2 separate regions of the Homo sapiens genome follow, and region 1 is linked to region 2. The links come from fine-mapping of genetic effects on gene expression. A gene starts in region 2. The other region holds a variant in brackets. All regions are shown on one strand. Distances are from middle to middle.

Region 1 (5,367 bases), 27 kb before region 2:
TTCTCAGCTACTCAAGAGGATGTTTGAATTTTGAGATCAAATCTCATGTCTCACTCTTACATACAATTGAACTGCCCGTAGTGTTGTTGGGGATGGAAGTGAGTTTATCCATGTAAAGTGCTTAGAATAGCACATAGGGCATAGTAAGCACTCAATCAATGCCAGTTATTATTATTACTGTTACTAGTAGTAATACACAATATATTATATATTATTAATTAATTTTTATTTATTTTTTAGACAGAGTCTTCGTCTGTTGTCCAGGCTGGAGTGCAGTGGTGCCATCTGGGCCCACTGCAGTCTCCGCCTCCCAGGTTCAAGCGATTTTCCTGCCTCAGCCTCCTGAGTAGCTGGGATTACAGGTGCTCACCACCATGCCTGGCTAATTTTTGTATTTTTAGTAGAGACCGGGTTTCACCTTTTTTGCCAGGCTAATCTTGAACTCCTGACCTCAGGTGATCCGCCCACCTCAGCCTCCCGAAGTGCTGGGATTACAGACGTGAGCCACCACGCCTGGCCAAATTTATTAATATGTTATATAATAAGTGTGCAATATAATATACTCTACATTATTAATTTATTATATAATATATTGTATAATATATACATTATTAATTTATTATATAATGTCATGACATATACTATTTATTAGATAATGAATGTGTAATATAATGGATTCTACATCATATATAATATATTACATGTGCATTACTTATATAATATGTAGCATATTATATACAATATATTATGTATTAGTAATTTATTATATAATAGAGGTGCATGTATAATACACTATACTGTATATTATTGTCTATATGTAGTTATATATAATACATCATAAATTATATGTAATAATATAAATTGCATATATTACACATAATATAGTATACATTAACTTAATATATTATAGATGCTATGCAGCAAGCAATATACTATATATCTCTATGTATCTCTCTATCTATGGCCTGGCACATTATAAGTAGGCAAAAATACTTTATGCTACTTTATGCAGTATTTAGCAAATTCAGTATCCACCAGTACCTAACATAGTTCTTGGTCCATAGTACATATTTAGAAAATGCTGTTTCGTGACACTAGCCCCAATTGCTGTGCATGACACCTCTGAAGCGTCAGGAAATGCCACCTCTCCCAACTTAACCTTCAAACCAGCACCCCGTGAAACTGCAGCTAGAAAACAACCCTGTAGTCCCAGTTCTGCCCCCTCCATGCTGAGTGACCTTGGGTTGCTCCCTTTCCCTCTTTGAGCCGCAGAGTTCTCCATCTGGAATACAGGTGTCCTTGGGCCCCGAGGTCCGCCCTGCTCTTTCCCCAGGCGCGGCCTGGACCCTGGCCGGGGGGCTCACCGATGCTGTCTGTCTGCAGGTAGCACTTGTTGCCCAGGCAGTACCGCCACAGGCCCTGGTGGGCGAAGGACCCTGACAGCCGGTACTGCATCCAGTGGTCTGTTGCCATGGCCACCACCAGGAGGATGGTCCCCACCCAGGCACAGAACAGGCCACCACCCATGAAGCTGTACATGGTGATCTGTGGGGAAGGGGAGAGATGGGATTGGGAGCTGAATTCCCGGGACTTGAAGGGAGGAACTGGGGGGAGAGAGGGCTCAGGAGTGGGATGCCAAGTGCTTGGGAGAAGGAGATGGAGACCTAGACGCCTGGGTCCTGGGCGAGGAGGGGACTGGAGCCCGGACTCCTGGGTCTGAGGGAGGAGGATGGTAGGGATCCTGGAAAGACAACAGGGAGAGCGGGGCTGGGTTCTGGGAAGAAAAGGCCGGGGGCCTGGACTTCCAGGTTCTGAGCAAGGAATAGGCTGGAGGCCTAGCTTCCTGAGTCCTAGGTGAGAAGGGGCCCAGGAGCCTGGATTCCTGGGTGGTGGGTAAGGAAGGGGCTAGGGGCTAGGGGGTAGGACACCAGGTCCTGGGAGAAGAAGGAGCTGGGACCCTAGACTCCTGGGACTTGGGGAAGAGGGGGCTACAGGTCTCACGCCTGGTGCCTACCTGAGTGGCAGAGCCTGCCCGAGCCCTCCTTCTGCCACGGCCCCTCTGTGCAGACTGAGCTGAGCCTGGTCACTGGCCTCTTTGCCCCCTTAGGTTCCCCAAATCCCTTAAGCCTCCCTACACAATGGTCCCACTACCCAGCAGCTTCCAGCAGGCAGAAATGCAGCGGTGGCAGAGGCCTCAAATGGAATTCGCTGAAGCAGGCATCCAGGGGGCTCCCCCCACCCACTCACTGACCTCTGTGACCCTCCCCGGAACCCAATACCTTGTCGCCAGCCTTGCTCAAAGCAACCCTGGCTTTGTCCGAGCTGTGTAAGCACGCACACACGCACACACACACACACACACGGGCGCGCGCACACACGCAAGATTCAGGGAGAGTCATGCGTTTATTGTTCAACCAGGGCTTTCTACCTGAAGAGCAGGCAGTGGGGTGGGGAGTCACAGGTGTCTGG[G/A]TATGTGGGGCCAATGCGGTTCTTTGTGGGGATGGACACAGGGCTGTGGCTGAGGTTGAGGATGGAGCTCTTTGGGGCTGTAGATTCAGAGGACATTAAAGATGGGCTGAGGTACACAGGCAATGAGGAGAAAGGGGTTGGTAAAGAGGGTGGGTTAGGGTTGAGGCGCAGAAGTGGAGCTGGGACTGGTGACAGGGATGGGAATGAATGGGTTTGGGAACAGGGTATTGAGAGTGGGGAAGAGAGAGGCAGGTAGGAGTGGCTTTGGGATTAGGGAGAGGATAGGGAATGGGGTTGGAGGAGCCCTGGGGGTTGAGAATGAGGTAAGGATTGTGGTTGTGGTTGGGGATGGCATTGGGAATGGGGTTGAGGCCATCAAGGAGACAGGTTTGGGTACGAGGTTTAGGATTTTCTTCTCACTTGGGATTCAGGTGACTTAGGTCAGGTTCACCAAGTGCCTCACAGGAGCTACTCCTGGGATTGTGGTTTTGGGGAGAGGGGAGGATGGAAGATGTTTCTTGGGGTTCTTCTGACAGGGCTGAGATCACTCTGGGCCCCAGGAAAACCCTCCTGGGTGACTGCAATCTCAGGTGCCTGACCCTCCAAGGTCCTAGTACTCTGTCTCCCAGTCCTCAGCAGCCAGTGGTGTTTCCAGGGGTGGCTCTGGACCTCGAGCTTCTTTCTTCCCATCCTGGGCAGGCAGTGTTGGTGGTGATGGCAGTGTCATTGGTGGGGTCCTGGGGCCAGCCCCAGGGCCCCCCGCCCGGCCCCTCTCTGGCTGCTCAGCTCTCCCAAGGCCCCGTCGATGCAGGCCTCGGCCCCAGCCTGGCCTGTGCCTGACTTCCCAGCCTCCGCGTCCCCTGGGAGGCCTCCTAACTGCCCCCGGCTGGGAGTGGCCTGCCTGGGAGCAGCAGGGGCAAGAGGGCAAGGCCTGTTGGAAGGTGTAGGCCCCCAGCAGGGCGCTGTGCAGGAGGCAGGAGAGGGTGTCCAGGCGTATGGGCACGGTGACAGAGGCCACGCTCTCCGGGAGCCCCAGGTGGGTGGGGTCTGTGGAGTTCAGGAGCAAGGGTGGAGGGGCTGGGAGAGGCGCAGGGGGCCATGGCTCGGTCCCAGATGACGGCAGGGACAGGTTGTTCCTAGAACAACAAAAAGACAGGTCAGTGGGGCTCAGCGTCTCCGTACTTTCTTGTTTCTCGCTGCCAGGCTGTCTCTGCACCTCTGCAGAAGGCAGCCATCTCTCCATCCTCAGTGCCCACCTGTGACTTCCTCCCCCGCTTCTCTCTTTTTGTTTCTAACCCGGGTCTCTCTAAAGAAACAGACAGCTCTGCCATGAACTTCGGCACCAGACAGAACTCAGTTCCAATTCCTGGTGGCCTCGCTTTTGGTGGTGTATCTTTGGACAAATCATTTTCCTATTCCGAACCTTAATTTGTTTATAGTCACAGATGGCTTTGGATGGTATCAAAGGTGCGTATGACAGCGCTGGGTCTGGTAAGTGCTAAAACAGTGGACAGCTACGATTTCTCCAGCCTTCTGGGGATCCCTGGAGTCTTCACATTTCTTGGTTTATTCTTGGAAATTTCTGTTCGATGAGTATCTGTTTCTAGCTCTTTTTTTTTTTTGAGATGGGGTTTCACTCTTGTTGCCCAGACTGGAGTGCAATGGCGCTAACTTGGCTCAACGCAACCTCTGCCTCTCGGGTTCAAGCGATTCTCCTGCCTCAGCCTGTCGAGTACCTGGGATTACAGGCACGCACCACCACGCCCGTCTAATTTTGTATTTTTAGGAGAGACAGATTTCTCCATGTTGGTCAGGCTGGTCTCGAACTCCCGACCTCATGTGATCCACCCGCCTCGGCCTCCCAAAGTGCTGGGATTACAGGCATAAGCCACTGCACCCGGCCTCCGCCTGTTTCTAAGTATCTCGCTCAACTCTCACCAAGATCTTCTAAGATTCTGTACCTATGTGATGATACCTGAGCCTTTTTTGTTTTTCCTGATTCTCTATGCAGGTCTGTTCAGCGCGCCCTTTCTCTCTCGTTTTCTCTGTCCCCTCCTCTCTCTGGGTCTCTGTCCCCCTCTCAGGAGGTCTTTGTTTGTCTCACCCTTCAGGCCCAGCCCCGTCCTTTGGTTGTTCCATCTCCACTGGGGCCCTCTTACGTATCTTCTAGCAACTTCGCCTCCGAGATCCTTCGGGGGCCCGGGAAGGTTGGGGAGGGGCCGAGGCCGAGAGAGGCGGGGCTTGGCCGGGTCAGAAATGGGGCGTGGCTCGCGGAGTTATCCGGGATCCCAAAAGAAAGAGCTCAGGCGGGGACCTGGATCTAGTTCCCCAAGATCACTTACTTAAGGCCTCCAGCACCCTGTAGCCCCTCCTCCCTCAGACCCAGGAGTCCAGATCCCCAGCTCCTCCTCGCTCAGACCCAGGAGTCCAGATCCCCAGCTCTTCCTCCCTCAGACCCAGGAGTCCAGATCCCCAGCTCCTCCCTAAGACCCAAGAGTCTAGATCCCCAGCCCCCTCCTCCCTCAGACCCGGAAGTCTAGGGCCCCAGCCCCTCCTCCCTCAGACCCGGGAGTCCAGATCCCCAGCTCTTCCTCCCTCAGACCCGGGAGTTCAGATCCCCAGTTCCTCCTCCCTAAGACCTAGGAGTCCAGATCCCCAGCCCCCTCCTCCCTCAGACCCGGAAGTCTAGGGTCCTAGCCACTCCTCCTTCAGACCCGGGAGTCCAGGCTCCAGCCCCTCCTTCTTCAGACCCCGTACTCTGGTTCCCCAGCCCCCTTCCTCTCTCAGATTCAGTAGTCCCGGGACCCCTGCCCCCTTCTCTCTCTCTCTCTGTCTTTCTCTCTCTTTATTCCTGCCATATCCTCAAGACAGATTCTTTAGGACTCAAGGGACGTTTTA
Region 2 (5,367 bases):
AGTAGCTGGGACAATGGGCATGCACCACCACACCCGGCTAATTTTTTATTTTTTTTGTAGAGAAGAGGTCTCACTATGTTGCTCAGGCTGGGGAATTATCTTAAGTTGGTTTTGGACAGGCTAAGTTTGAAGTGCTGATTAGACACCCACATGGAGATGTTGCATAGACAGTCTTCAGGGAAGGAGCCACGAGATACAATTTTGCAGTCATCAGCATAAGATGTTATCTCTTAATAATTTCCAGAATTTACAGAGTATTACCCAGGGGCCAGGTGATATTCTGAATATTTTATTATGCAAGTACAATATATTTAACACCCAGCATCATCCTAGGAGGTGGCCGCTAGTATTGTCTCCATGTTACAGCTAAAGAAATTGAGGCACAGAGAAGTTAAGACACTTGTTTCATGACACAGTGATGACAGCAGGATTTGAACCCATGCAGGCTGATTTCAGACCCCCTGTGCTGAATCCCTAGGATGCCCAGCCTCCCGATGATACACATAATTGTTAAGCAGTTAAGTGTAGTCATGTCAATGGTGGCAGTAATAATGGAACAATGGCTACAGATTGAGAAAGTGCATGTATTCTAATCCTCAAACCAACTCTCAAAGGAGACAGAGGAAGAAATGAAGGCTCAGAGGGGGTGAGTGACGTGGCTGAGGTCTCATAGCTAGTAAGTGCCAGGCAGGATTTGAATTCAGAACTATCGGTGCTTTTCCCACCTTGATGTCGCTAAGACAAGGGGTGCAAAAGTCAGAAAGTGGGATGTCAGCTTTAGAGAAGAGAAAAAGTGGAAGCATGGCCCAGACACTCACCAGGGGGCCAGCCGTCGGGACCACATTGATGTAATCCAGGATCGTGCTGTGCCGGGAGAACCTGGGCCTCGGGGTTTCTGTCTGAGTCCGTCTCTTCGGTAGAATCTTCATGCTGAGGAAATGAACCCACCTGTTTGTGCCCTGCTGCACCTCCCTGTGACAGACTGCCACGTTTACTACCTGAGACCGTCACTATGACAGTTACTACTGTTACCACTTGAGACCGTCATTATGAGACTGAAAGAAGGAGGACAAACGTAGAAATGAAAACTTAAGACAAAAGAAATTATTTTAAAGGAAGGGGTCAGGGGAAGAAGAAGAGGGTTCCCTGCTACTAGTGAGCCAGGGCAGCTGTCTGAGCCTCTACAGCCCTTTGTATTTATTGGGTAGAAAGAGCAGAGAGCAGGAGGTAACAATTGGTCAGCTGTTTAATTGATCACAGGTTCATATTATTACTAACAAGCTTCAGCTGTGCCTAATTACAAGAAACACTTCGCTTGGGGCGTGACTGCCCTCAGCATTCCCTCTGGGAAGCAGACGCAGTTTGTCAGTTGGACAACATTCTGCATTTATGAGAACAGTTTGCTGTTTACTCATGTAACCTCCAGAGGTATACTGCGTTGATCACGACCTTCACTCTTTCGGCCTGCAACACCTCCCCTCTTCCTGGGTCCAGGCCCCAGACCCCGCCACGCCTCCTCTTAACCTACATGATCAGGGCCAGGCAGAGGAAAAGAAGAGCCGTGATGCCGATTCCCAGAAACGCTCCGTTGGAGAATGCCGTTGAGATGAGTCCCTTCTTATCTGCACACGGAGAGGGCAAGGTGAGCATTTCCCATCCACGCAGGGCTCACGAAGCCCGCTCATCACTCGGCATTAAGGCTTCCGGTTCCCATGGCGGACATTGTATCTGCAACCCCTCTGTTTACTTTTAGGAAACCCTGCCACACCCCGGCCCAGGTGTTAGGACTTCCCATTGTGTTTTCCTGTCTACATACAGATGCCACGGGTCTGCTGTGTCCCTCCAAGCTCCTGCTCCAACCACAGGACCCTACTCTTTGCCCCAGTCAGCTTCTCCTCCAAGAACCTTGGCATCCAGGCGGCCCCCTAACCTGGCAGCTGCAGGATGGATCCACTCTGGGCCCCATGGACGTTCCAGGCCTCACAGCGGAGCCTGAGGCCGGAGCTGAGCCCTCCATGGAGGCTCAGGGAGCTGTTGGCCCAGGGCCCGGCTGAGCTGGGGGTGACCTCGAAGGAGTCCTGGCTGCTGTTCCCCTCCAGCAGCTCCTCCCCAAGCCACCAGCGCAGAGAGGGGGCCGGGCTGGCCTGGGAGGAGCAGCTGCAGTGCAGACCCTCAGCCTCCCAGGAGCAGGAGGGGCCCAGCAGCTTCGGGGAGTCTGAGGGGAGGGAGGACAGGACTCAGCAGGGTCCCCTTCCTGGGACCCAGGTGTCCCCTTTCCCCCACTCACAGTGCACGGAGAGGCTGAGAGAGACGTGCTGGGAGCCCAGTGGGTGCCGAGCGTGGCAGGTGAACTCTCCTTCGTGCTCCACTTGAACCCGAGGCAGCTCCAGGACCCCGGGGTCTGAGGGCTGGGAGGGGCTCAGAACCTGTCCCCTCTGGGTCCAGCTCAGCCTGGCTGGGGGGCTGCTGTGTGTGACACAGACCAGGCACAGGCTTTGGCCCTCCAGTACTGGGAGAGACGTGCCGTTCCCAAGGTTTTCCAGGACTAGGGAAGGAAGAGGCAGAATCGATGAGCAGCTCAGGGCTCAGGGACCCTCCTGCGTGGGGACCCTCCAGACTCCTGGGCCCCCAATTCGGCACTGAGAGGCCTTGGCTCCTCTGTCCCCTTTCCTACCTGTCCTGTTTGCTTGGGAAACCATCACTCTCAGGTTCTCTGGAGGATCTGAAATGGAGACAGGGGACCGGCTCTAGACGGACCAGGGGCTTCCCTCTGGGTAAAGGGAACCATCCTGGACACTGAGGTGGGGGAAGTGGGTGGGATAGAAGGGCAGGGCAGAATCACCCACTGAGTCCCAGACACAAACTGCATGAGGGTCTACACAGGTAAGAAGGTCGGTCTCCGAGGCCTGGGGCTCCAGGCCCCCTCAGCTCTGGGACCCTGAGCCCAGCCCCTGTATCCCTCTGCCCTCCCAATGGACTCCAGGCCCCTGCTGGGCACACTCACACTGCACAGAGAGGTCCAGGGCTCGCTGCTGGGAGCCAAGCCTGTTCTCCGCTCGGCAGGTGTAGCGCCCTGAATCCCCAGCCTTCACCCCGGGCAGCTCCAGCCCCAGGGGTCTAGGGCCCCAGGGATGGGACGAGGAGAGGACTCTGTTCTGCAGGACCCAGCTCAGTGTGGCAGGGGGCTGGCTGTCAGCAGCACAGAGGAGCCGCAGGAACTGGCCTTTTTGGGCTTCCAGGTATGGGACATTTCCCTGGGGCTGGGGCTCCAGGGCTGGAGTGGGAGGAAAAAAAAAAAAGAGAGAAAGGGAGGGAGAAAGAGAGAAGGGGTACAGGGAGGAGCACATCCCCTCATCCCCTGAAGCCTTTTCATCTAAAGACAACTGGCCCAGCCCCAGCCCGACGGCCCTCAGTACCTGGCGTGTTGTCACGTGAAATGCTGATAACAAGGTCTCTGGGGGCATCTGCAACAAGATTGTGAGCTGGCTTCAGGGAGGGACAATTTATTCCTCACACCTGGAAAAAACTCCCTCAGGGAAAAGAAAGTGGGACTATCCCGGGAAGACAAGTGACAACCAGCGCCAGGGCTCACGTGTGTGGACCAGACGCCATTCCCATCCCCCTCCCAGGGCTGCGGCGGCATCCTGGGACCCCACAGCTTCCTCTCCCTGGATGCTCCTGAGCTGGGAGCCGCTCACTGTCCCACTGGGCTCCTCCACCTCCCCACCCACCGGGGCTGTCTGCACACCCCACCCTCCCAGGCCACACTCACAGGCCACACGGAGTCGGACGGTCCTCTGTGCGCTCACACCCTTTCTGGAGAAGTCCACATGGCAGGTGAGGTCGGTGTTGTGGTCCTGGGGTCTGGGCGTGAAGCTGAGCACTGAGAAGTGGGAGGTCGTTGGTTTGGTTCCTTGGGAGGAGAGGGCAGCCCCCGTCCAGGAGAAAGAAGGGGGTGGACATTCCTCAAAGGCCCAGTTAAACACACAGATGACCGTCACCGGCTGCCCGGGCTCCAGGGTCTCGGGGATGTAGACATCAGGCTTCTGAGTCAGGGCTGGGACAGAGACCGTGGTGGGAGATTCTTGTGCTGCAGGGGTCCCTGAGAGCCCTCTCTGCTCAGCCCATAGGCTGTCCCCAGGGTCCCTCCCCAGTGTGAGAGGCAGGGGTTCCCACCCCATTCCATACCTGTTACTTTTAGAAAGAACCCATCGTTCATGAAATTATATCTCACATAGCTTCCTCTCTCCACCCGAAAGAAGTACTGTGACTCATCCTGCATCTGCGCGTCTCTGATCACCAAGGAGCAGTTCCCCTTGGCGGGATCCCCAGTGAGCTGGAATCGGCCCCGGGTGCTCATTTCCACCTCTCGACTCTGGTGGTTTGTGGCCACAGGAGCACCCTTGGTTGTCTCAGTCACTGCTTTGAACCAGTAGCCATAAGCTGGGGTAGACCCTGTCCAGTCCTGTCGGGGGTAGGAGAAAGAGCAGGGCACAGAGATGCACAGGCCCTCCGGCACCATCACTGACTCCTGCACTCGTATCCAGAATCTCCCATCCATAGCCTGGGACCCTGTGGGGAGACAGAGGCTCAACCTGCAACCCCAGCCCTAGCTCCGCCCCAGGTCCTTTCCGGCCCTTGGCCCACTCACCGCCCAGCAGCGAGGACAGCAGCAGTGGCAGTAGCATCTCCGCATAGGAGGCGCAGGGCCTGCCTGAGACAGGCCTGTTCTCTGGTCGTGCTGTGAGTGGCTCAGGGCTCTTGGCAGAAGGGGAAGCCGAAGGCGGAAGCTGAGCCCTGGGGCCTGATGCATGAAATGAGCTTCAGACGCTGAGCTCACAGAACTCCTTTGCCTTCCCCCACACTCTCCGGCCCACCTTGCCCAGTTGTCCTCTGGGTCTCCTGGGGGCCCAGCCTGGCCTTGGGCTTGTTGAGCTGGTCCTTCCAGAGCTCCCTGTGTAGGAGGAGAGGGCAGGCTTGTGTCTATCCTGGGGGCCTGGCTGGGGGTGGGGTAGTGGGGTGGGGGCTCTCCCTCTGGGCCCTGGGTCATCGGAAAAGCAGAAGTGAGAAGTCCACAGTGAGCTACCCTTATCTGGGCCACTGGTGGTGGAGGTGGTGGGTACAGGGGAAGGGACCGTTACTGGAGGGGGCTGGTCTTGTCAGGTAAAATGCAGGATGCCTGGTTAAAGCTTTCACAGACAATATAAAGTATTTTATTTTATGTTTTTTGGTATAAGTATGTCCGAAATGCTGCATGGGATATACTTATACCAGAAAGCAAAATAAATTTATCTGAAATTCAAATTAATTAATTAATTAATTATATTTTGAGACAGAGTCTCACTCTGTCACCCAGGCTGCAGTGCA

What was found. PIP is the estimated chance that this variant, and not a neighbour inherited with it, causes the effect.
Region 1: its variant is fine-mapped to the expression of SIGLEC10-AS1 in whole blood (TOPMed, PIP 0.94).

The regions. Positions count from the first base shown.
Region 1 is chr19:51,385,905-51,391,271 of GRCh38, forward strand. It overlaps LIM2 (lens intrinsic membrane protein 2), which reads right to left and starts at 2,070. Exons shown (of 5, transcript NM_001161748.2): 1 at 2,015-2,070; 2 at 1,365-1,545. The coding sequence starts at 1,539. C19orf84 (chromosome 19 open reading frame 84) reads right to left here and starts at 4,687. Exons shown (of 2, transcript NM_001193623.2): 1 at 4,574-4,687; 2 at 2,385-3,605. The coding sequence starts at 4,608. The coding sequence ends at 3,080. LIM2-AS1 (LIM2 and SIGLEC10 antisense RNA 1) reads left to right here and starts at 1,204. Exons shown (of 2, transcript XR_002958397.2): 1 at 1,204-1,293; 2 at 1,384-1,467. The variant G/A (reference allele first, on the strand shown) is at 2,470.
Region 2 is chr19:51,412,894-51,418,260 of GRCh38, forward strand. It overlaps SIGLEC10-AS1 (SIGLEC10 antisense RNA 1), which reads left to right and starts at 2,831. Exons shown (of 3, transcript NR_164125.1): 1 at 2,831-3,239; 2 at 3,536-3,837; 3 at 4,239-5,304. SIGLEC10 (sialic acid binding Ig like lectin 10) reads right to left here and starts at 4,749. Exons shown (of 11, transcript NM_033130.5): 1 at 4,652-4,749; 2 at 4,189-4,572; 3 at 3,773-4,057; 4 at 3,417-3,464; 5 at 3,005-3,274; 6 at 2,675-2,722; 7 at 2,288-2,545; 8 at 1,931-2,215; 9 at 1,529-1,622; 10 at 819-930. The coding sequence starts at 4,688. RefSeq lists enhancers at 4,679-4,848, 4,909-4,978.